Linked DNA regions of Homo sapiens: all the other regions are linked to region 5. The links come from fine-mapping of genetic effects on plasma protein levels. A gene starts in region 5. Each other region holds a variant in brackets. All regions are shown on one strand. Distances are between the middles of the regions.

Region 1 (5,105 bases), 18 kb after region 5:
GACTCTAACCTCTGATAGCTACTTCCTGGGATGCATCCAGCAAAATCATGGGGGCCCAACCCTCACCCCAATATGTAGAGAAGGTTTGACTTGGAGCCAAAGACGATTATTCTCAAACCTCAAGATTTAATGTTATTTGCTTTGGTGGGAATTGGGCTTATTACAGACTTATTACAGACTTATTATTTATTTTTATTTTCCATTTCTCTCTTTTGGAATGAGGCTGTCCATCCTGTGCCTGTCCCATCACTATATTGTGGAAGTACATAACTTACTTGATTTCACAGCTGGAGAAACATGTGCCTCAGAATGAATCATACTTGACTTTCACACGTATCTGATTTTGATTATATTTAGATGATAATCTGGACCTTAGACTTTTAAGAGGATACTATAATGAGCTAAGACTTTTGGGGCTTTTGGGATGAAATGAAACATTTTGTACCTGAGAAATACATGATTTTTAGGCAGCTAGAATGCTGCAGTTTGAATGTTTGTCTTCTCCAAAGTTCATGTTGAAATTTAATTGCCATTGGAACAATGTTAAGAGGTGGGACTTTTATGTGGTGACCAGGCCATGAGGATTCTAAAGAACAATTCCTCCTTTCAGGAGCACACACACGCGTGCACACACACACACACACACACACACGGGTTTGTGGTGCTAGTGTGTGTGTAAAAGACAAATTAAATTGCAGGTTAAGAATTGGGTGATGTCTTACATTTATTCACTTTTTAAGCTCTTCTTGTGGAGCCTCTGTCCTTGACCATAATCAATGGGTGGTTATGTGTTGAAATCATTCAGAATCCAGATAGCTGGATGAGTTGCATGTGGAAATAAGTAGAGGAAAATCAGTATTTTGGGAACTCAGGGAATGGCCCTGGAGCTAAACTGCATGTCTGAATCTAGTGCCAACACATAGTAGCTGTTTGGTTTTTTAAAATTTTATTTTCGGTTCAGGGGTACATGTGCACGTTTGTTATACAGGCAAATTGTGTGTTGCAGGAGTTTGATGTATGGATTGTTTCATCACCCAGGTAATATGCATAGTATCTGATAGGTAGATTTTCAATCCTTACTTTCCTTCCACCTTCTATCTTCAAGTAGGCCCTGTGTCTGTTGTTCCTTTCTTTGTGTCCATATGTACTTGATGTTTGGCTCACACTTTTAAGTGAGATCATGCAATATTTGGTTTTCTATTCCTGTGTTAGCAGCTGTTTTAATCTTGCAGGAGTTACCTAGCCTTTCTCTTGCCTTCATTTTTTTTATGTGTCAAATATGGTTCGTAGCAGCACCTACATTATTAGGTTTTCATGGGGATTAAATGGTTTCTAATTAGGCAAGCATTTAGAATTGTGCCTGGCATAGACAGCATGTGACAAAAATTAATGTTTAAAAATCAGAGGTTTCTTGTGAAGCAGAATAGGCTAACTTATAAGTAGGTTTCCTTACACCTGCAGAACACAGCAGACCATGGAATGTCCTTGCTGCATTTGTTATTTGTTCAGCTCCTTTCTTTTCCAGTCTAAAGTTTGCAGACAGGCTATTATTTACATGCCTGCCAAGGATTTAAACAAGTGGGAGATTATCTCTCTCTCATATGTCTAAAATCTCAATTCCAAAGGTGGAAAGCAGAGAATACCTCTTGGAAAATGGCAAACAGCACCTAGAATCAGCCATAGCCTTGGAATTTTCTTGGCGTTATTGGAGGCTTATCAGAAAGTTTCCCCACTTAAGGACATATTAACACTAGATTTCCAGGAGACTGCTTTCCATATACAAGAAGACTGCTGGAGGGAATATGATGGGAAAGACCTGAAATGAGCTTCTTGGAATCTTGTAAAACTATGTCACAGGAAGGGCCTTGTTTTCTGGAGGACAATGAGATAAACCTTGAACAGATAGGAAATACAGTTTATATGCAAAAGGCATCACTTTGGAACAAAGTAGCTGCCAGGTAAAGGTATCAGTTTTATTAGCTTGCACGCGGAATTTGGCCAGTCACATGTGCAAGCAATAAAGTTAATAACATCTCAATGTGTTTCCAGATACTGGTAGCAATAAAGATTTTTATGGGAATACTGTGTCAATTGTTGATACAGTATTGAACTGAATCTCTCTCTGTTTTATATCATGCCAGTTACAGTGTATTTCATTATGTATTTTAAAGTATTAGATCTTTTATATCTGGAATGTTTTTGCTTGCTTTAAGTCTTCTTGAAGTAAATAAGAACTCTCATATTTAAAAAAATTATGCCACAAAGAATTTTTTTAATTTTAAACTATTAATTACTTGTTCATTTTTTTTGCAAGATACACTTATTATGGTACCAAGTATACTGGACTCCTACCTACTGTATCTTTT[A/C]TGAAGTCTGAAGAATATGATTGACTTTCTTATTTATAAGAAAAAAGATATCTTAACCTGGCTATAAGCTTGTAAGATAGCATAAATATTTTTACTAAATGCAGAAATAAGTTGGATTAACATAACAAACACCTATGAACCTGCCAAGTAGAATAAATAATGTCAACGTTTGTCATCTTTGTTTAATATTATTAGTTTTATTTAAAAAGTTATAAATTCTCCAGGCAAATACTGTGATAGATTTTTCTTTTTATTCTGTGTATATGCAACAATGTAGCAAAAATTATCTCATCAATATCTGACAACTTGATCTTGGACTTCCCCGTCTCAAAAAATTAGAAAAATAAATTTGTGCTCATTAAAAATTACCCAATCTCAGTTATTTCATTCTGTTATAGCACACAAAATGAACTAAAACTAGAAGAATGCCAACCTGGTATCTATCACCTCTTCCTCACTAATGACATAAGCAAGAATTTACATGATGTGTCAATGTATCACAATAAAGAACATTTTATTACTATTATTATTATTACATACATTTTTTTTTTGAGACGGAGTCTCACTCTGTCGCCCCGGCTGGAGTGTAGGGGTGCTATCTCAGCTCACTGCAAGCTCCGCCTCCTGGGTTCAGGCCATTCTCCTGCCTCAGCCTCCCGAGTAGATGGGACTACAGGTGCCCACCACCACAACCGGCTAATTTTTTGTATTTTTAGTAGAGACGGGGTCTCACCATGTTAACCAGGATGGTCTCGATCTCCTGACCTCGTGATCTGCCCGCCTCTGCCTCCCAAAGTGCTGGGATTACAGGCATAAGCCACCGTGCCTGGCCAACATTCTCCTTTTTAAATACAGAAGGCACAAAACTAGCAGAATATAAATTGCTGTAACATATGAGGCTGAGGAATAGAAGTGGAATTTGGAAACCCAAACTGGATTTTCTCTCAAGTGAAAGGATCCTTTCCTCAGAGGATCAACGACATGTCTCCAAGGCAAGGTAAATTCACAAATCTAAATTAAACCGATAACGTATTTCTGGCTATGAAATGACAAAAAGTGTAAGACAGATAACCATATAACCTTTAAACAAATGTCATTATGCCAATTGAGGAGATGAATATTAACCAGGTTTCAGAAGAATGAAGATAGTAAGAAAATCAAGGAAAAATTATCAAGTTTATCTTCTCTAAACTCATGTCGACATTTAATTGAACATTGTAATCATTTTTACATGGACCTTTAAGAAGTGATTGAGCCATGAAGGCTCTGTTCTCATAGGTGAAGTTAATACCATTATAAAATGGCTAGTTTCATTCCCTTTTGCTTCTTTGCCCTTCAGCCTTTTGCCATGTCATGAAACAGCAGGAAGGCCCTTGAAAGATTCCAGCTTCTTGATAATGAACTTTTAAGTCTCTGGAACTGTCAGAAAATAAATTTCTGTTTATTATAAATTATCCAGTCTCAAGTGTTTTCTTCTAGTTGTAGAAAATGGACTAAGATAGAAATTTGTACCAGAAGTGGGGTTGTTACTATAAAAAACACCTAAAAATGTGTGTCAGATTTGGAACTGAGTAATGGGCAGAGGGCAGAAGAGTTTAGAGGATCAGGCTAGAAAAAAGCCTAGATTGCTATTAACAGAGTGTTAAGGGCTATGCTGGTGAGGGCTCAAGAAGAGGAGAGCTATAGGCTAAACCTAAATCAGCAGTGAGATTACTTAAGTGGTTTTCAAGTGAATAATAGCAATATGAATGGTAGAGGTAATTCTGATGAGATCCCAGATGGAATTGTAGAACATGGTATTGCACAATGACCCGAGGGTTATCCTTTTTACCAAGAGGCAACAAACATGGCTGAATTGTCTTTGTGTCCCAACATTTTACGAAAGGCAGAATTTAAGAACCACAAGTTAGGATATCTGGTGGAAGAAATATCTAAGTAGCAAATTGTTAAGGATGCTGCATGACTTTTTTAAACTGTCAATAGTAAAACTTGAGAAAAGGGGAAAAAATTAAATATGAAATGTACATTGAAAAGGAAGTAGAAAGTAAAGATTTGGAAAATTCTTAGTCTGGCTGTGTTTTAAATAAAGAAAAGGCATATTCAAAAAAGAAAAACCTAGGGTGTGGCCAAATTTTGATAAGGAGATTAGCTCCCATCACAAACCCAGACAGAATGCCAATGCCTGGAGAACAGAATTAGATCAAAAGAGGACTCTTGAGAGCCCTTGGGACCTTGTTACTCACTACTCAGGGCTTCCTCAAATCTCTGATTCCTGCATTCCTAAGCAGCTCTTTTAAGCCATCTCAGAAATGGCTTAACGAAGCCCAGATGTGGTGCTGGCCATCACTCCAGAAGGCACAGGGCACAAGTTTTGATGGTGTCCATAGCATGTTAATTCTCCAGGATTGCTGACTGTAGGAGCTAGATTTCAAAAAATGTGTCAGGGAGCCTCAGGGCTCAAAGAGAGAACTGACACAGGTGCAAGGCCACCACAGAGATTACCCACTAGGACAATTCCTAATGAAACATTAGTTGGGGGGTTGCTAGGCAAATAGCTAAACATAAGCAGGAGGGAAGAACTCATGACAAAAGGGAGGTTTGAAAAATTTTACACCCCAGAGAATACCTAAAACAGGCATGCTAAATATAAGCCAAAAAGAGGAAATAAACTCTCTGTTCTCTATTTTCCTTCAATACATTCTCTTTTTTGGTTAAATCAATCGCTTGGCAGAATTCTTC
Region 2 (5,105 bases), 42 kb before region 5:
AACATAACTGTCAACAAGTAATTGCTCAAACCTACCCCGCTCGAGGGGACCTTTTAGAGGTTCCCTTGACTGATTCCGACCTTAACTTGTATACTGATGGAAGTTCCTTTGTAGAAAAAGGACCTTGAAAAGTGGTCAGGGATAATGGAATACTTGAAAATAATCCCCTCACTCCAGGAACTAGTGCTCAGCCGGCATAACTAATAGCCCTCACTCGAGCACTAGAATTAGGAGAAGGAAAAAGGGTAAATATACATATAGACTCTAAGTATGCTTACCTAGTCCTCCATGCCCATGCAGCAATATGGAGAGAAAGGGAATTCCTAACTTCTGAGGGAAAACCTATCAACCATCAGGAAGCCATTAGGAGATTATTATTGGCTGTACAGAAACCCAAAGAGGTGGCAGTCTTACACTGCTAGGGTCATCAGAGAAGAAAGGAAAGGGAAATAGAAGGGAACCACCAAGCAGATATTGAAGCCAAAAGAGCTGCAAGACAGGACCCTCCATCAGAAATGCTTATAGAGGGACCCCTAGTGTGGGGTAACCCCCTCCAGGAAACCAAGCCCCAGTACTCAGCAGGATGAATAGAATGGGGAACCTCATGAGGACATACTTTCCTCCCCTGAGGATGGCTAGCCACCAAAGAAGGAAAAATACTTTTGCCTGCAGCTAACCAATGGAAATTACTTAAAACCCTTCACCAAAACTTTCACTTAGACATTGATAGCACCCATCAGATGGCCAAATTATTATTTACTGGACCAGGCCTTTTCAAAACTATCAAGCAGATAGTCAGGGCCTGTGAAGTGTGCCAAAGAAATAACCCCTGCACTGCAGGCCATACCTTTCAATCCCTGTACCTTTAACCTCCTTGTTAAGTTTGTCTCTTCCAGAATCGAAGCTGTAAAACTACAAATGGTTCTTCAAATGGAGCCCCAGATGCAGTCCATGACTAAGATCTACTGCAGACCCCTGGACTGGCCTGCTAGCCTCATGCTCCAATGTTAATGACATTGAAGGCAACTCTCCCGAGGAAATCTCAACTGCACAACCCCTACTACACCCCAGTTCAGCAGGAAGCAGTTAGAGCAATCATTGGCCAACCTCCCCAACAGCACTTGGGTTTTCCTGTTGAGAGGGGGGACTGAGAGCAGGACTAGCTGGATTTCCTAGGCTGACTAAGAATCCCTAAGCCTAGCTGGGAAGGTGACTGCACCCACCTTTAAACACGGGGCTTGCAACTTAGTTCACACCTGACCAATCAAGTAGTAAAGAGAGCTCACTAAAATGCTAATTAGGCAAAAACAGGAGGTAAAGAAATAGCCAATCATCTATCACCTGAGAGCACAGCGTGGGGGACAATGATCAGGATATAAACCCAGGCATTTGAGCCAGCAATGGCTACCCTCTTTGGGTCCCCTCCCTTTGTATGGGAGCTCTGTTTACACTCTATTAAACCTTGCAACTGCAAAATATATATATATATATGAAAAATAATTATAAAATTGGTAATGGAGAAGCATGGAAATAAGTGGGACTGAGGAATAACATAAATGGACTACTATTTATTTATCATTTTATTAATATTATTTTTTAAAATAATATTAATTATTATTATTTATAATTTTATTATATTTATCATTTTATTAATGATATTATTTATTATATCATTTATTATTTATCATTTTATTAATCATTAATATTAATGTATTATTTATCATTTTATTAATATTAATTTGATTGTATTACTTCTTTTTGCTTCATTTCTCTAAAAAATAAAGCTAAAAAAGATGGCAAGATATTATCGCTGTAGATTCTAGATGGTCAACCTATACTTGTTTGTTAAATGTTTTCTGTATGATAAAGATAATTTATTACAAAAAGAAAAGCAACATGACTATGGAATTATTTCTTATTTTTATTTTTATTTGCTACCACAAGAAATGTGAACTCTGATACATTGTGAACAGTTCAGATCTGCAAAATTATCACCCACAAGCTGTTTGAGTATGATTTATGGTAATTAATTGAAAACATTATCTTAATTTTTTCCCAAATGAACATTTTGTATTATAACTAGCTTATTCTAAAAGAAAAATCAATAAAAAGCAATAGCCTTTTTAAAATACCCAAATAGATAACGTTAGAAGAGCAAACATGATATGAACAGGGAACTCTTCCAAGATCAATGTGAAAATTTGAAACCAAATAAATATTAACACAGTTTTCTGATAAAAATTATTGCCTCCAATAACTGCACAGGTCATATGATAGTTACTGTTCATGGCTTAC[G/A]TATAATTGACCAAATTTCAGTAGCTATGTTATCAGCTTTCCAGTTCTTTGATGTTAATAACTTCCCTCATTGGCCTCAGGGGCTTTGAAGTTTTGTCCCTTTTTCCTGTTTTATAGTTGCTCAGCACCTAATCTTATCCCTTTCCCAATTCTTCTGACAGTGTTAGGATAAGATGAAAGGACCAAAGTGGCATTCTGGACATCTGGTTAATATATCTCAAAGGGGTGCACTTTAGTGATAAATCTCCAGTGAGATACAGTTCAAGGCTATTTTTGACATGGACCCTGCTGAGCCATCTTCCAGGAAACCTCTACATTTTACCATCCTTGAAACAAATATATTAGGCTCCTGCAAAGAGATCAGTTTTCACTTTTATAATTCTAAGAATGACTACTAAGTCTTATCTGCAAATATCTGATTCAGAAGATAATAGGGATAAAAGTACAAATTGGACATCTTTTGGCAAAGGAAGCTCCTTAAAACTCAGCCTTGGTTACATCAAGAATAAGAATTCCTGTGTCATCCCTAAGAAGTAGATTTTTATATAACTCAAAACCAGCTCAAGAAATATAATATTTAAACAAACTTCTCAGTGCTTGGTTAATAAGCATTGTTATGAAGAAACAATGAAAAATAAAACAAAAACAACTCAACTTTAGTGAGTTTAGTGAGTGTCATTGCAAAGAAAATTTCACATTGCACTTAGGGATTTTATAACCTTAAGGCTTATTACAAAGGTCACACTATTTCAATTAAGAACAAAAGTGAGTTTTAATAATAAACTGTCAGCATTTCAAATCTTCTCTCCTAGGTATCTTGAAATATACAACATATTGTTGTTAACTATAGTCACCCTATGTGCTATCAAAAGCTAGAACATATTCCTCCTATCTAGCTGTATGTTTGTACGATGAACTAAACTCTTTTCATCTCCCCTCACCCGTCTCAGCCTCTGGTAACTATTCTACCCTCTGGTTACCTTCTACCCCGTACCTCCATGTGTTTACATATTGTTGTATAAATTTTGTGGAAAAAAATCCTTTTTAACAAAATAATCTGCTGGCTATATTTCTTCTCATATTATTTGAGGAATTGCATTGAATTTTGGGTACTGAATTTTGAGGACGTGAATTAAGGATGAGCTACATCTCATGACCTCGTCACAGACCCCTACTATAAACATCTGCATACAAGTTGGCATATTACAACAATAGCATGAGAGTCAGGGTCTGTAGAAATTCCCAGCCTAACTTTTTCCTGGACTGGCCAAACTGAACCTGAACCAGTGTATGGGCAATGTAGTATGCTTGTCAGAGGCACCAAACTGCTAACTCAAAAATAAACATGACTAAAAGAACTTCTCCCAGTATACCCATATGAAGCTGACCATTTGCCCAGTAAGAATGCAATGAAAAGGGCTTTTAATGTACAGCCAAATGGCAGTCCAGCAAGGAAGCTCATGAGCAACCTACAAGTAGTGAGCATTTTGATGTAATAGAGACTTACATGCAATTCAGAATTATGTTTACAACATCACAAAACAAAAATTTAGAGATAGGCTCTCACTCTGTTGCCTAAGCTGGAGTGCAGTGGGATGATCATAACTTACTGCAGCCTTGAACTCCTGGGTTCAACTGAAGGTCCTCCTACCTCAGCCTGCTGAGTAGCTAGGACCACAAGCACACACCACCGCAACTGGCTTAAATTAAAATATAAATTGTAGAGATAGGGTCTTAATGTGTTGCCCAGGCTGCTCTTGAACTCCTTGCTTCAGGTGATCCTCCCACCTCAGCCTCTCAAAGTGCTGGGATTATAGACCTGAGCCACAGCACCTGGCCAACTGACCTATGATTTTACACAATGGCTGCTCTTCCCTTCTTTAACTATTATTCATTCTTCTTTGATCCTCATTATTTGACTGTAGTCCTTCTTATGTCTTGTTTTCCTTCATTACCTCTTATTCTATCACATTGCCATTGTCATTCTCCACTGGGGAAGCTCTTTCTTGCTGAAGACTGGAAAGACAAGTCCATTCACCTGATTTTCTGTAAGATTGTGGCTCATGTATTGACTTGTCAGACAATTCTGAAGTTTCATCAAAATTAGCTATCATGCTTGCATAATGGCCCTGAACCCTCACTCCTACTCTTAGCTTCAGTACCATCTATGTCCTCAACTGTCCATGATACTTATAATTCCCGTAAATCTTCACTTAACACCTAACATTTATTTAATCTTACTAGGCAAGGTAATAAGAAATACATAGGTTTGCCTCCAGAAGTGGGTTCTTAAGAAACCCACCAGAGGAACTCCTCTTTCAGATGTCCACATTAGAAGATTTCATATCACATTTGGTGCCACAGGCCTTTGACAAGGAGGATGCAGAGGAAAAAGCAAACTTCACCTCTTCCTAGGGAAAGTGTTGGCCTGCCAACAGGAAAGAGGCAACATCTGGGAAAATCCCCAGTCTTTGCCAGGAAGAGTCCATGCCAACCCCACCCCATGACCCCTGTCCTGCCTACTCATTGTCACTCTTCACTCCAATGTCCCTCCCCCAGATCCTCTTATAAAATCCCACTCTTTCCTGACCAGACAAACCATACCATATCCCACCAGAGAGGTAAGTGGGAGCTGAGAGAAGATGAGACCCAGGGAGGAGCTACTGCACATGACACAGGAGAATACATGGGAGGGTCCCTTCCTCAGGGAGCACAGGAACTCTGAGACTCAGCAAGGGTGTCCTGGGAGGGCTCGGGGATGGGAGAGTACACAGATTCACAACTCATTCAGAACTGTAGAAGATGATGGA
Region 3 (5,105 bases), 24 kb after region 5:
GCCATCTGGGTCCAACGTAGCAGTTACGTCAGACTAGGACACTTCCTGTTTACAGGAGGCTATAAAACCTTTGCCCCTTCCTCACTTGGGGCTGACGCCATTTTAGGCCTCAGCCATCCTGCACCCAGGTGCTCATTAAAACAGCATGTTGCTCCACACTGCCTCCTGTTAGCTGTTGGTGCGCTCTCGGGGTTTGAAGTGATATAAAAACCTTATATCTGGTGCTGAAACCCAGGAGGGGCTCAGGTCTGCATCCTCCATGGACCTACCCCTCCACCCCAGAAAGCAGGCCACAGCAGCTGGACAAAGGAAGCTCCTTGGTCTCCAGTCACTTCTCTATGCATGCACATCAGTCGCTGATCTTGCCTACTGCTGAGTTTCCTTGGGAGCCCCGTTAACAGGGAAAAATCTGCACAGCCTGTTTTTGTTTCTCTGGTCCAAAAATCCAACATTGGTCCAAGAAGGCTCCAGCACGTGTCAGGCACTCGCTGATCATCTGGTCTTAAGTGGATGCCTCTTAGCCATTTGATCCTGTTTCGGGAACAAAAAAGGCAGCGGTGACAATTGCTCCTTTTATCATCTCCCTCTGGCTGTCCAGGACGGTCTCCTTTTTCCCTGTTCTCCCCAGCCTACCCTCCTTTATGGAAAACTCCCCATCCTCCATTCCAAAAAACAGCCCTCTAGGCTGCCTCATAAAAAACCTGCAAACCTTAGGCCTCAGGCAAGATATCCGCCCTAAGCGCGTTGTCTTTCTTTTTGCAATACAGCCTGGCCACAGTACAAATTAAATAACGGATCCAAATGGCCCGCAAATAGAACATTTGACTTTACAGTTTTAACTGACTTGAGCAATTATTGCCGACGACTGGAAAAATGGGGAAAAATTCCTTATGTCCAGGCCTTTGTGCACTCAGATCACTACCCGACCTCTGCAATCCTTGCTTACCTGTTCAAATCCTTCCCCTCCATTCTTGCCGCCCTGATCACCTTTCTCCCCCGACCCTCTCTCTTTTTCCTCATTCTATCCAGCTGACTGCTGTTCACCCCTCCCAGCCAGTACCTCTTCCTCTCAACTGTCTTCTTTAACCCTCCAAACCTCCTTGTTGTCTTCTCAGCCACCATCTTCCCAGCTGGCATCACCTCCAAAAGTACCCACTTCTTTTCCTACAACATCCTCTCCTCAAGACAACTCTAGCACTGTCTGTACTAATTCTCCTTCTTCACTCCGCTCTCCTGAAGCCTGTAAAACCATCCCACCACATTATGCCCCTATCTATCGTCCACTGCCTGTCAACTCAACCCCCCTTCCCCTTCAAACCCTGAGCAGGAACCACTTCTGGCTTCTTTCTTCTCTCCCACCCATATTTGTTCAGGCACCATCTTTGGCCCATACCCTACCCTTACTTCGGCGCCTGCGCTAGAATGCCCCCTTTGGGAAGTGGCAGGAACTGAAGGTATTGTTAGAGTTCATGTTCCCTTTTCCCTCACTAATGTCTCTCAAATTAACAAAAGACTCGGTTCATTTCCAGAAGACACTACCTTTTATATTAGAGAGTTTCAGTACCTTACCAAGTCTTATAAACTAACCTGGCATGACCTCTACTTTATCCTCTCTTCCACCCTCACCCCAGAAGACCAGGACCGGACCGTATCTGGACCCTAGCTCAGGCACATGCTAATACAATTCATCACCAAGCTCCTGCCCTGTCTACTGGCACAGAGGCAGTCCCCAGCCAGGACCCCCACTGGGATTATTAAGATGGGGCCTCTGGATGGCGCCATCAAGACCACATAATTATGTGTCTCCTTGCAGGACTCAAAAGGGGTGCCCATAAAGTGGTAAACTATGAAAAACTTTCAGAAATCACCCAAGGTCCTGACAAAAACCCAGCCCTTTTTCTCTCTTGTTTAACTGAAGCCATGAGAAAATATACCAACATAAACCCAGCCAGCCCAGAAGAAACCACTATTTTAAACCTTCAGATCATTTCCCAATCCACCCGTGATATTAGGCACAAGCTTCAGAAGCTTGACGATGGCCCTCAAACCCCACGACAAGACCTTATTAATTTAGCCTTCAAAGTCTTTAACAGTTGTGATGAGGAAAGTAAAAGGCAAAAACAGGCAGAGTCTCAAATGCTTGCCTCTGCCATCAGGGGCCCTGCAGGCCCCCAGGGCCGCAGCTCCACACGGAAGCCTCCAAGCAATCCACCTCCACCTGGCACATGTTTCAAGTGCAGCAATAAAGGCCACTGGTCCAGAAAATGCCCAAATCCAGGTAGGCCCACCAGACCATGCCTCCTCTGCAGAGGACTCCACTGGAAGTTGGACTGTGAGTGGCCCCTGCAAGGACCACCCCCATCCCTTCCTGAGCCGGCCAAAACCTCCTACTCAGATCTCATTGGTCTTGCCGCTGAAGACTGACGGTGCCCTGGAACGGATGCCCCAGCAACTACCATTGCTTCATCAGAGCCAAGGGTAACCCTGATGGTGGCAGGTAGGCCAGTATGTTTTTTTAAATTAATATTGGGGCAACCTACTCTGCTTTACCTAATTTTTCAGGACCCACCCAGTCCTCCCAAATCTCTGTTGTGGGAATTGATGGACAAATCTCCAAACCCTGAGCCACCTGCCACTTTTCTACTCCCTGCACACTTTTTCCTTCACTCACTCTTTGTTAGTCTTGCCTTCATGCCCAACTC[T/C]GCTCCCAGGCAGACATATCCTTTCTTTTTCTTGCTTTTTTTTTTTTTTTTTTAAGACGGAGTCTCACTCTGTCACCCAGGCTGGAGTGCAGTGGTGCGATCTCCGCTCACTGCAAGCTCTGCCTCCCAGGTTCATGCCATTCTCCTGCCTCAGCCTCCCGAGTAGCTGGGACTACAGGCGCCCACCACCATGCCCAGCTAATTTTTTGTAATTTTAGTAGAGACAGGGTTTCACCATGTTAGCCAGGATGGTCTCGATCTCCTGACCTCGTGATCCTCCCGCCTCGGCCTCCCAAAGTGCTGGGATTACTGGTGTGAGCCACCGTGCCCAGCCGAAACGTCCTTTCAAAACTCCACACTACTCTCCACTTCCACGTTCCCCATAGTACCCAACACATCCACCCAGACCCCTCCAGTACTTCTAGTTTTCTTCTACTCCTTCAACCTCCCACCCTAAAACACACAACCTTTCCTTATCCCCCATCCGTAGTTAATCCTGCTGTTTAGGATACTTGCTCACCCTCAGTTGCAGAACACCACACCCCTGTCCACATTACTCTTAAAGAGCCCACCCAGTTCCTATCACAGAAGGAGTATCCCATCCCCCAAGCAGCTCTCATGAGCCTAAAGCCTATCATTTCTTGCCTTCTTGCCAGTCACCTACTCCGCCCAACAAACTCCCCTTTTAACACACCAATTCTACCTGTCAAAAAGCTAGCTGGAACTTATCGCTTAGTCCAGGACCTCAGGCTCATTAACCAAGCTGTACTTCCAGTATGTTCAGTAGTTCCTAATCCATACACTTTCCACAATTCCCTCCAATACCACCCATTTTTCTGTTCTAAACCTAAAGGATGCTTTTCTTCACAATTCCTTTGCACGCTAATTCCCAAAACCTCTTTGCCTTTATGTGGGAAAACCCCGACACCCACATTTCACCTCTGCTCACCTGGTGCGTACTACCTCGAGGTTTCAGAGACAGCCCCCACCTTCTTAGACAGGCCCTTGCTTGCGACCTTTGTACCTTATCCCTAAAATTGTCCACTCTCCTTCGATGTGTTAATGATCTGCTCCTGCGTAGCACCTCTCAAAGAGACTGCAACGCCCATACTATCTCTCTCTTTTAAACCTGGCAGAACGGGGGCATTAAGTCTCCCCTAAAAAAGCACAAATATGCACCCCCTCAGTCATCTATCTAGGCCTAGCTCTTACCCTGTGTACCCAAGGGCTCACAACCGACCGCATTTCCCTCCTCCTGTCCTTCCCACCTCTGCAAACTAAGCAAGAAATTCTCTCTTTTCTAGGGACAAGCAGGATATTTTAGACTCTGGGTTCCCTCCTTGGCTGTACTTGCCAAACTGTTATACCAAGCTGCTAAAGGCCCTCTCCATGAGCCTTTAAAACCTGCACAGCCTATTACTCAACCTTTCCATCTACTCCAGAAGGCTCTCATCTCAGCCCCCGTCCTCACTCTCCCAGACCTCACCAAACCTTTCTCCCTCTATACCGACAAACAGTGTGAAGTTACACTGGGTGTTCTAACCCAGTCTAAGGGACCCACCCTCCAGGTTGTTGCCTACCTCTCTAAACAGCTTGAAGCCACAGTTCTCAGATGGCCTGCCTGCCTCCGAGCATTGATGGCAGCTGCTGCCCTCACCCTTAAAAACCTAAAACTATCTCTCCATGCCAACCTAACAGTTTATTCAACCCATAACATCAAAGACATGCTAGCTCACCACAGTGTACTAAGTCTCATCTCTGCCCCACAGCTCCTCCAACTGTATGCTCTATTCATAGAAAGCCCCCAAATCACCATGCTAACCAGCTCCCGTCTAAACCCGGCCACGCTCTTACCTGAAGCTACAACCACCCAAGACCCTACACACTTCTGTTTGAACACTATTCAAACCTTTCTTATACCTTTTCCAAATCTAACATACCAATATCTTCCAGATGCCTCCTTTACTTGGTTTGTAGATGGCAGCTCCTTCCTACATCAAGGACGCCGGCATGCTGGCTATGCTATAGTGTCACCCCCACACACACTATTGAAGCCAATCCACTCCTCCTAGGCATCACCTCCCAAAAAGCTGAACTCATCGCCCTCACTCGAGCTCTCACTCTAGCAACCAGACAACAGATCAACATATATTCAAATTCTCATTATGCTTTCCACATAGTATACTCACACTTGTCCATCTGGAAAGAACGGGGTTTCCTAACTGCCAAAAATATCGCTGTCATAAATGACTCCCCCATCAGCAAGCTCCTTCAAGCTGCCCGGCTCGCACAGAAAGTTGCCATCATTCATTGCAGGGGCCACCAAACCCCAGACAATCCTATATCGGTGGGAAATGCTTTAGCAGATCAGGTAGCCAAACAAGTAGCCCTACAACCTGTGCA
Region 4 (5,105 bases), 50 kb after region 5:
TTCTTCCATTGGAGTTTCTATTTCCACAGGCTCCTTTCAGTGCATGCCTGGTCAGGAGAGGAGGCCTCCATGATGAATAATGTTAAGACGCCCTGAACTTGTGTCTCTCCATTTCTCCACTGCCCCAAGCAGGGTGCTCCACATCTTATCCTGCTGCCTCTCTTGTCTCACAGATGGTCCTGCTCCAGGCTCACACACTCAGTGCCCCTCCTCCCAGGGTCCTTCCCTCATACCCATTATCACCATTCCTGGAAGATCTCTGCTTCTTCCTGGGCTGCTCAGGGCCATGGGAACTGGGCATCTCATTGCTGCTGGGGAAGGGCAAAGCCTGCCCTTGACTCTCACAGTTTGCCAAGTTGTTTGTGGAAGGGACCTCTTGTGTGACCACTCCCAGGATGTGCCTGGAAGAGGCTTCTCCTGATGCTGGGCTTTCCTTGCATCAGTGCCCTCTATAGGGCCTGTGAACTTCTCTCATTGCCCTCTGCTTAGAATTGCAATTTAAGACTTCCTTTATAAAGAGGGATTCACAGGAAAATAGCTTCTCTTTTTGGATTTGAGGAATTCACAACTTTTCTTAGACTCCATACTCAAATTAAAAAGCAAATAATGGGGTCTCGATACACTATGTGTTTTTGACTGCTCAAGGGTGCAAGACTTAGAGGGAGAGATCTTGGATGGCTTATTCTAAGAGTTTAGTCCTTTCTGAACATTTTTATGTCCTTTATTTTCATGGACAAGTCCTGAGATATCAAAAAGAGAGGAAGAGTCCTGACTTGCTTCCTGCCTTTCAAGTTTCCATTAAAACTTCAAGTGTTATCTGATCCCATTTGTTTGTGAATTTTGTTGGAGGTTGGTCATATCTGTGCTAAGATTTAAAAAAAAAAATTCTCAATGCCTCCAAACACACACAAAAACGATTGTGGTACCGGTAAATATAAAAGTCAAATTTAATTGTGTGCTAAGGATTGGGTGCGTAGTGCCTCATATTTATTTGCTTTTTAAGATCTTCCTGTGGGGCTCGCAGCTATGGCTATGATTCATCGGTATGTTTTTACCGAATCCAGTAAGGCTTCAGAGAGCTGAATGGATTGAATGTGAAGAAAACTAGAGAGATCTCAGAAAGACAGTTGTGATAACTAAATGACCCTAGAGCAAAACTTGTGCTTGTGTTTGATTTTCACTTCAATACATAGTAGCCGCTTGATCCTAGGTAAATTACTTAGGCCTTCTCTGACCCTCAGTTTCTTCATCTGTTAAATATGGTGGCAAATGGCACCTCTGTTTTTAGGATTTCATGGGAATTAAGTGGGTTCCTGTTTGTCAAGCATTTAGAATAGTGCCTGGCATAGAGACCATACGATGTAAGTTTGTTTAAAATAAACTAGAGCTTTCCTGTGAAGCAGAAGAGGCTAAGTTATAAGGAGGTTTTCTTACATCTACAGAACACATCAGGCCGTGGAAGATCCTTGGTGCATCTGGTAATTTCTCAGCTCCTTTTCTTTCCAGTCTGAAGTTAGCAGAAAGGCTGTTATTCACATTGCCTGCCAAGAATGTAAACAAGAGGGTGAGTATCTCTCCACAGCAAGTTTAAAATCTAGATTATAAGGTTAGAAAGCAGCAAATAGCTTCTGGAAGATGGCCAGTAACATAAAATATCATCTATATATTTGAAACTTCCTAAATGTTATTGGAGGCTTACAAAGGAATTGCCCCACTTGGGGAGGCATTAACACTAGGTGTGTAGGACATATTCACCCTTTCATCTATCAGAATACTCTCAGAGAAAATATGATGGGAAAGACCTGAAATGAGCTTCCTAGAACTTTGCAAAACTAGGTCAGAGAATAGGACCTTGTGGCTGCTGAAGACAAGGAGATACATTTTTAAGGGACAGGAAATATGACTTCCCTGAAAAAGGCATGACTTTGCAACCAAAGTGACTGCCAATAAATGCCCTTAATTTTATTACCATACATGTGAAATTTGGCCTGCTACATATGTAAGCAATAAAGGTA[T/A]CTATCTTAATGGGTATACAGCTATTGGGGCAATAAATATTTTTTATGAGAGAACTTTGTCAGTTGTTATTTGTTTTAAATCTCTCTCTTTTCCATATTGTGCTAGTGAAGCAGGATATTTCCCTGACCCCTTCACAAGCCTCACAACAGGGGTGCCTCACTTAGCCCACAGCTCTCAACCCCTTGCAGTTGGGGGAGCATGCAGTTGAGCAGGTGCAGGAGCCAGGGCAAGTGCTACTGGGCACCAGCAGGAATGAACTCCGTACCAGCCCCAGAGCAGCATCTAGGGGGGTGCCTGTGACCCCTGAAGCCCCAGAGGGAGTGTTATGGTCAGTGTTCTTTTAGCTTTGCCATCCCTGGATGGCTTATGTCAATGGAGGGTCATTGTGACAGACTTTTGCATTCACACTTGTGGCTCTGAGCTCTTATCTGCAACCCAGGAAAAATCAGGTCACATGAATGAATTGAAGATGGTAAATACAGGGGATTTTATTGCTGACGAAAGTGGATCTCAGCCAGAGAGGGAGCTGAAAGGGGGACAGAGTGGGAAGGTAATTGTCCCCTGAAGACTGGCTGTCCCCAGCCAGACCCCTCTTTGAAGCTATGCCATCAAGCTGCCCCTCTGAAGTCAAGCTGCTTCTCTCTGACATCCAACTCTAGTCTCTGATATCCAGCTGCTTCCCCTCTCTCTGCCACCTGAGCCTGGAGTTTTTATGGGCACAGGATGTGGGGGGTGGGCCATGGGTGGTTTTGGAAAATGCAACATTCGAGCAGGAAAACAGGAATTCAAGTTCTCACTTTGGGCCATGGTTCCAGGCTTGAGGGTGGGGCCCTCACCAGGGATCTGCCCTCTTCTGCCCAGAATTTCCCTGCTTCCTGTCCGTATCATTTCCCATCTTTGAAGACACACATCTAACTGATGTAAGAATACAGATGATGACCAGTCTTAGCTAATTTCTTCTGACAGGGGGCATTTTTTGGAGGGAGAATGGCAGTCAGACTCTTCCCAGAGGTCTATCTAAGGGTCCCTGGCAAATGGGAGCCATCATCTGAGGCTCCAGTTGCCTGACTCTTTGGAGTTTGATGGCCTCTAGATGAGAAGAAACAAGGTTTACAAGGTTAAGCATGCATGGATCAAATATGTGTATTGTACAAAGAGGAGTTAAAAAGAAGAGAATCTAGTGCCAAAAATTACAGAAGTAAGTGAAATATACTAATCATTCTGAAAACAATATGGTGCCCCATGGTATAAAACAGAATAAAGGTAAGAACAGCAAGCATAGGCAAGACTATAAAAAGGATGACTCACCTTATGAAGATTCTGCCAGTTTCATTTTGTATAAACAACCCCAGCTGAGTGTGGTTTAAACTGTAGAATGCTATTGATGTTGAGGGCTGTCTAAAGATCCTTCTACAAATCCGGCCCCCAGCATGAGAGCCATTCTCTCACAGACACTTTTCAAAGATGTTTTGCCACCTTTCAGATTGATATCAGTGATCCTTCCTTAGTAGTCTCTTCCCATGTGTGAAACCATCTTTGTGGAGGAATGGATAATGGTGGTGCACACTGAAGGTCTTTCAAGATTCTGTTCAGCTTGTTACATATTGTATTAGTGTGCTCTTGCAGCTGTAACAAACTTGGTGGCATAAAACAACAGAAATGTATCCTTCCACAGTTCTGGAAGAGAGAAGACTGATATTAGTATTGTGGGGACAAAGTTCAGAGGTTGGCAGGGTCACATTTCCTCTAGATGCTCTAGTGGGGCATCTTCCAGCAGCTGGTGGTTTCTGGCCTTCTTCAGCTTGTTGCTGCGTCACCCCAATCTTCACAGCCACCATCTTCAAATCTCTTTATTCTTTACCTTCACATTGCCTTCTCCTCTGTGTGTATGAGCCTAATCTCTCCCTTATAAGAGCAGCTGTGATTGCATTTAGAACCCACCAGGATAATCCAGGATTATCTCACTGTCCTCAAATCCTTAATCACATCTGCAAAGACTTTCTTTTTCTCCAAATACGGTCACAATTACAGGTTGTAGGAATTGGAACATGATAGCTTGGGGACCACTTTTCATCCTACATACGCTTCATCTCATGTAATCCTGAAGTAAGTATGTATACCCTCCCTTTACAGGTGAGGAATCTAAGACTCAGAGAGCTTAATGCTTTTACATTAAGTATTTTTTGTTGGCCTCCTAATGTGTTCTAGATGCCCTTTTGGTTTCTAGGACACCGCAATCTCTTGATATCATTTTTACCTCATTGGCCACCCTTTTGTTCTCCTTTGGGGCTACTCCTTGCTCTTTTTTTTAGCCTCGATGTCAGACATTGCAATTCTTAATTGCTGAACCTCTTCTTCCCTTCCCTTTTCTTCTTTATTCTCTCACTGCACCCTAACCTCCAAATCATCCTTCTGGGAGTCTTAATGTGAATGTTTTAATAGATACATCAAACTCAAGTTCAAAACTCAACACCTGATTTCCGCCTTTCTCCTACCCCATAAAAAACATTGCTCCAATATCAGCCTCTCCCATCTCACTGATCCATTCTTTCGGTAGCTTCAGCCAAAACCTTGAAGCCATTGCTCATTCCTCTCTTATGCTCTGTTCCACTCCATATTCAAGAATTCCTGTTGATGCTTCCTTCAAAACAGATCTCTCCTGGGCCACTTCCCAACTTCTCCAGGGCTGTGTTCAAGCCCCATCTTCTTCTTGCTTGATTTACTGCAAGTAATTCCTAACTGGTCCCCTGCTTCTACCTCATTGTCTGTGTGTCCTGTTTACTAACTAGCCAGCAGGAGCCTTTTAAAACATGAGTGAGATAATGTACTCAGACCTCTGCTCAAAATCATATACTGGCTCCTCACTTCACTCAGTGAAAGCCTGCAAATGCAGCATGATTCGGTCCTATTTCTGCTCTTTTAACTCTTCCACCCCTGACTGTGTTGCAGAAATCACCAGGCATTCTCTCAATTAAGTCTTTGCATGGCTGTCCCTTCCTCCTGGAACATACTTCTACATATGTCTGCATGATTAACTTCCTCAGCTAAATATTTTAATGAGCCAACCCCAACCTGTATAGTTGTAATTT
Region 5 (5,105 bases):
TCCCAGTTCCATCCCTGGAGCTAAGCAGGAGAGAACAGAAACAGGTGGATGGATTCTCTGCCTCTCACCTGTGCTTGAGGTCAGGCTCACACAGTAGCCAGGATTAACACTGCTTGGGGCTCCAATGCCCCAGGACTTGTAGGAGACCAGGGACCCACTGCTCCAGTGCCAGCGGCGGTTCTAGATGGGGAAGGGCCAGAACAGAGGCAGTGGTCACTCAAAAATACATGGAATCACTGGGCCTGTGTGCACACTCAGAAACATGCTAAGACACAAAGGAAGAATAAACCTTGCTAAATATTGTTTCCTTTCCTTTGCTATTGCTCTAAACTTCTTTCCTGAACTGTCCAACTCATTAACTGTATTCCACCAAGAAATAAGTGTTATGAATTTGACAGAGACCCAAAGTATCTCACTTAAAAAGTGGTTCCTGATTTTTTGTCTTTGTGGCCCAGGACCCTCATATCCAGCATAGCATTGGCTGACCATTAGTTGTTGATATATTATATTATTTAGTATACTACCAGGTTCCCAAATGCCAGCAGTACAGCAGCAGATTTTTACCACAAGTCTCCTTTCCTATATAGTCGGCAATCTAGTCTCTCTTGTGACTCTGACAGTAACAAAATAGGTAAGAAGTTGGTGCATAAAGATGCTTTGTTGACTGAAAACAGAATAAGTTTATTCATGAATGACAAGAACACCTAGGAAATTCAGCCTTCCACTTATATCTCCAATCATCTACAGTGCACCTTGCTACACAGGACATTAGAGGATCTGTAAACAGCCTGATTTCTGGAAAGCGATAAAAGCTGGTACTTAAGAGACCAGAACTTGAACCTCCTTCTTACTTCTCAAACCTGATCATTAGGAGATAAAGAAGGCTGCAGCCTACCTTTTTGGGGTCATGGAGGCCAATCCAGACATTGAAGTCATCAGTGCCACTCTCCTTAATCAGTGAGGCCACAAAGGCACCCTCGGCCTGGGTGAGCACAGACACCAGGTTGCCCGAATTCATGTTCTGGCAATAGAGCTGTTGCAGAAGAAAATGGAGCACTCAGTGGAGGAGGAAGTTGTGACGGATATACTGAGTCCTCCAAGAGGACGGGTCAGAAAAAGGACAGCAGAGTAATGTCCGTGATGATGCTGTCACTGACCACCAGGTTCTTTGTGCTGGGAATGTGCTGAATAATGGGATAAAGTAGATTGGAAAGTTTGGGGCTGATGATAGTATAGCAAGGGGTTCAGTCTCATCTCATTGCAGCCACTGAACACACTGGAGAGTGGCAGCTTCCCCTCCCTTCATGAGTCTCCCTTCCCACACTGCTCTCCTCACTCACATCTGCATCAACCCAGGTCTCACGGTCTTCATTAAAGTAGTAGCAGTAGGAGCGATAGGCATTGGTGCCTTCTGGGCAGCTGATCCGGGCCTGGGGCAACTCTGTCTGGGCCTCTTGGCCTGAAAAAGAAGAGACAATTAAAGGAGGCTCTCAGGGTAAGGAAAAGGCTTGAAGGTGAGGTAAGAGCTTCTGAGGTTCCTTTATAGAAACAGAAGAATCCAGTCTATTATGGGATGACTGCTCACTATTGCTCCTGCATCCTACATCTTCTGTCTTTGGTTTCTTTGATCAGGGGAAAAAAAACAGAATGAATAGGCCAAAGAAACAAGTCTCCAGTTTCCCTTTTATGTCTGGAGCTCAGGCTCTTCTACCTTGAAGGACTCAGCCTTCTACTTTCTCAAGCCTGACTTGGTTTCCCTGAACACAAGGCTCTCTTCAGTTCTCCACCCCATTAGTGACTGTCTACACACAGACATCCCCAAATCCACCATCACGTATAAATTTAATCAGATAAACTCATGCCAACTGCAGCAGTTGCTTATAAGGGGTCATTTTAAATTCTAGCTCCAACTCCTTAATGAGGTGTGGATGTATATAAATGTGAAGAGATCAGCAATAAAGATCACTAAACACCACAAAACAACCCTTAACAGTGACTCTGCTTTTTTTTTTTTTTTCAAGTAGACCCGTATGCTTGGGGATAGAGTGAAGTCTTCAGGGCTAGAAAGAGTTGGTTGGTGGAAAAGAGATCTTACCTTGGCTCTGAGACAGAAACATCAGGCAGGAGATCAGCATGAAGTATGAGCTGGTCTGAGCCATGCTGAGCTGCAATGAATCTCTTGCTTAAGAGGCAAATCAACAATCTCTATAGGAGAACACAGAGAAGGGGGTTCTGAGAGATGGAGAGCAAAGCACCTATTACCTTCCTTAAAACCTCCTCTCAGAATTTCTGAGACCAGGAAGGTCCTCTGAGACACCCACACCTTCAAATGTTTCTCTTGAGAGTGGGGATTATACAGACTCAGTAACTGAAAAACAACTTTGGATCCCACTGAGGCTTCATTACAGCTAAAACCTCTTGGACAGAAACTCATGCTGTATCTTCCCGAAGATTTTAGATCTACAGTGCATGTTAGAGACGCCCTTCTCCTGTAATGCCCACTTACCTGTTGGCTGAGTCTGAGTTGGCTTCTCAGGCCAGGTAGCTGTAGGAGCTTTATATCAGGATCTGAGATAAGAACCACGTCATTTAAGCAAAAGGGGTGGGGGCAAGCGGTGAGTTTTGGGAGCATTGACAGTAAGAGATTCTGGCACCAGTACGAGCCTTTTCCCGGCACACACTGGGAGTGGTCACAACTCAGGTCCCCTTCTGGCAAAAAATTTGGCAAGCTGTCTAAGTCCAAGGTGGACTTTGCTCTTGCTCAGCAGAAAACAACTGAGGGCTCCCATGTGCCCTAATAACCCAGAGAGGAGCAGAGAACAGTAGACTTCCTTGTATTCCCTGTAAATTTAGAGGCTCCTCTTTGGTGTCAGGCATGGGTAGGAGATGGGGAAGAATTAACTGATTCCAAATAATTTAGAACAATGTGCTTGTGGCAATAAGTGGTTCCTCCATGTCTTTTTAGGCTCACAAACCTCTCAAGACCTACCTCAAGGGGTAGGTTAAATTTATATTTCTAAACATTTAACATGTCTAACAAGGTTTGAGCTAACAAAATACACATATTCTCAATGTGAGAATTGTAGAGAGCTGATGCCTAAGGAAGCTTAAAGGAGCTAAATATGAAGTCAGGCTTCATTGAAATTGTCCATTTGAAGTCAACTGTTTGTTAGTATGAAGTCAAAGATTGTGTGGTGAAATTGAGTATTTACCAGAATCATCATAGAATAGTCATTTATAATTCAGGGAATAAAAGCCAATCAGAATGCAAAATTAGGAAGAAAAAACTAACCTGAATATTCACAGAAAGAGAGATAAGTATATGAATTGGGACAAATGGATTAACAAAATATAATAAAATACTAAACAGAATTTAAATCGAATAAAGTAGATATCTATATTTCAACTTGGACTAGTATCAAAGCCATAACATTGAATACAAAAATTCAGTTGCAAGAAGTTATAAGCTATTTGATAAACTTTATATATGGTTTTAAAAGACAGATTAATACTAAATTTTATTTATTAATCAATTCTTATACAGTTTAAAAAATAAAAATCTGAAATGTAAGAATATATATTACAATTTGTCATAGTATTTGCCTAACAATTTTAAGGTTTTTTTTTCTTTATATAAAAACTGATGATGGGCCTGGTGTGGTGGCTCAAGCCTGTCATCCCAGCACTTTGGGAGACTGAGATGAGAGGATCACTTGAGCCCAGGAATTCGAGACCAGCCTGGGCAACATAGCGAGACCCCATCTCTACAAAAAAAGTATATATATATATATATATATATATATATATATATATATATATATATATATATATATCCAGATATGGTGGCACATGCCTGTAGTCTCAGCTACTTAAGAGGCTAAGGTGGGGGATTGTTTGAGCTTGGGAAGTAGAGGTTGCAGTGAGTTGTGCCACTGCACTCCAGCCTGGGTGATAGAACAGGGAACTGTCTCAAAAAATAAAAACAAAAACTAACGATATTAAACAAAGATGACAAATGTTAACATTGTTTATTCTCACTGGTTCATATGCATTTGTTAAATTAATCCAAATTTTTTCTGCTTTTACAAAAAGTAGTTATACCTTTTAAAATGATTACAACCAGAGAATGATTCCTATTTTTTTCTATAAATAAGAGATTCAGAAATATTCTTCCGTTAACAAAGGATATAGTAGGGAAGAGTCGGGTATACTTGGTATCATTACATATTTATCTTGTGAAAATTAAACAAGCAATTAATTTTTAAAAAATCTAAGATAAAAATACTTTATGGCATAATGTTTTCTTTTCTTTTTTTAACTTTAATCTTTTTTTTTTTTTTTGAGATGGAGTCTGGCTCTGTCACCCAGACTGGAGTACAGTGGCTCAATCTCAGCTCACTGCAAGCTCCGCCTTTGGGGTTCACGCCATTCTCCTGCCTCAGCCTCCCGAGTAGAGTAGCTGGGACTACAGGCATCCGCCACCACACCCGGCTAAGTTTTTTTATTTTTTTTTATTTTTAGCAGAGATGGGGTTTCACCGTGTTAGCCAGAATGGTCTCGATCTCCTGACCTCATGATCTGCCTGCCTCAGCCTCCCAAAATGCTGGGATTACAGGCGTGAGCTAACACACCCACCCTTTAACTTTAATTTTAAGTTAAGTGGTACAAGTGCAAGTTTGTTACAGAGGTAAACTTGTGTAATGGGGGTTTGTTGTGCAGATTATTTCATCACCCAGGTATTAAGCCTAGTACCCTTAGTTACTTTTGCTGACCCTCTCCCTCCTCCCATGTTCCACCCTCCAAAAGGCCCCAGTGTGTGTTGTTCCCCACTATTTGTTCAATTGTTCTCATCACTTAGCTCCCACTTATAAGTGAGAACATGCAGTATTTGGTTTTCTGTTCTTGTGTTAGTTTGCTAAAGATAATGGCCTCCAGCTCCATTCATGTCCCTCAAAAGGACATTATCTCATTCTTTTGTATGGCTGCATAGTATTCCATGGTGTATATGTACCACATTTTCTTTATCCAGTTTATCATTGATGGGCATTTAGGTTGATTCCATGTCTTTGCTATAGTGAACAGTGCTGCAATGAACATATGTATGC

Alleles and levels. Positions count from the first base shown, and alleles are read on the strand shown. Strength reflects both the effect of a copy and how common the allele is.
In carriers of allele C in region 1, the plasma level of the protein whose gene starts at base 2,533 in region 5 tends to be higher than with A alone (strong association).
For the plasma level of the protein whose gene starts at base 2,533 in region 5, G is the high allele of the variant in region 2 and A is the other (moderate association).
With allele C in place of T in region 3, the plasma level of the protein whose gene starts at base 2,533 in region 5 is higher (moderate association).
As copies of T replace A in region 4, the plasma level of the protein whose gene starts at base 2,533 in region 5 goes up (moderate association).

Evidence for each region. PIP is the posterior inclusion probability: the model's chance that the variant is causal. Protein levels are from antibody-based Olink assays in UK Biobank. Linkage for the fine-mapping came from a reference panel and not from the study's own genotypes, which makes the PIPs less certain.
Region 1: its variant is fine-mapped to the plasma level of the REG1A protein (UK Biobank, PIP above 0.99).
Region 2: its variant is fine-mapped to the plasma level of the REG1A protein (UK Biobank, PIP above 0.99).
Region 3: its variant is fine-mapped to the plasma level of the REG1A protein (UK Biobank, PIP above 0.99).
Region 4: its variant is fine-mapped to the plasma level of the REG1A protein (UK Biobank, PIP above 0.99).

Annotation. Positions count from the first base shown.
Region 1 is chr2:79,100,305-79,105,409 of GRCh38, reverse strand. No RefSeq gene overlaps it. Among named protein-coding and RNA genes, the nearest start is that of REG1B, 15 kb to the right of the region's middle. The variant A/C (reference allele first, on the strand shown) is at 2,367.
Region 2 is chr2:79,159,539-79,164,643 of GRCh38, reverse strand. REG3A (regenerating family member 3 alpha) reads left to right here and starts at 4,891. Exons shown (of 6, transcript NM_002580.3): 1 at 4,891-4,916. The variant G/A (reference allele first, on the strand shown) is at 2,296.
Region 3 is chr2:79,094,360-79,099,464 of GRCh38, reverse strand. No RefSeq gene overlaps it. Among named protein-coding and RNA genes, the nearest start is that of REG1B, 8.9 kb to the right of the region's middle. The variant T/C (reference allele first, on the strand shown) is at 2,703.
Region 4 is chr2:79,067,686-79,072,790 of GRCh38, reverse strand. No RefSeq gene overlaps it. Among named protein-coding and RNA genes, the nearest start is that of REG1B, 18 kb to the left of the region's middle. The variant T/A (reference allele first, on the strand shown) is at 2,016.
Region 5 is chr2:79,117,916-79,123,020 of GRCh38, reverse strand. It overlaps REG1A (regenerating family member 1 alpha), which reads right to left and starts at 2,533. Exons shown (of 6, transcript NM_002909.5): 1 at 2,507-2,533; 2 at 2,096-2,205; 3 at 1,341-1,459; 4 at 896-1,033; 5 at 69-180. The coding sequence starts at 2,159.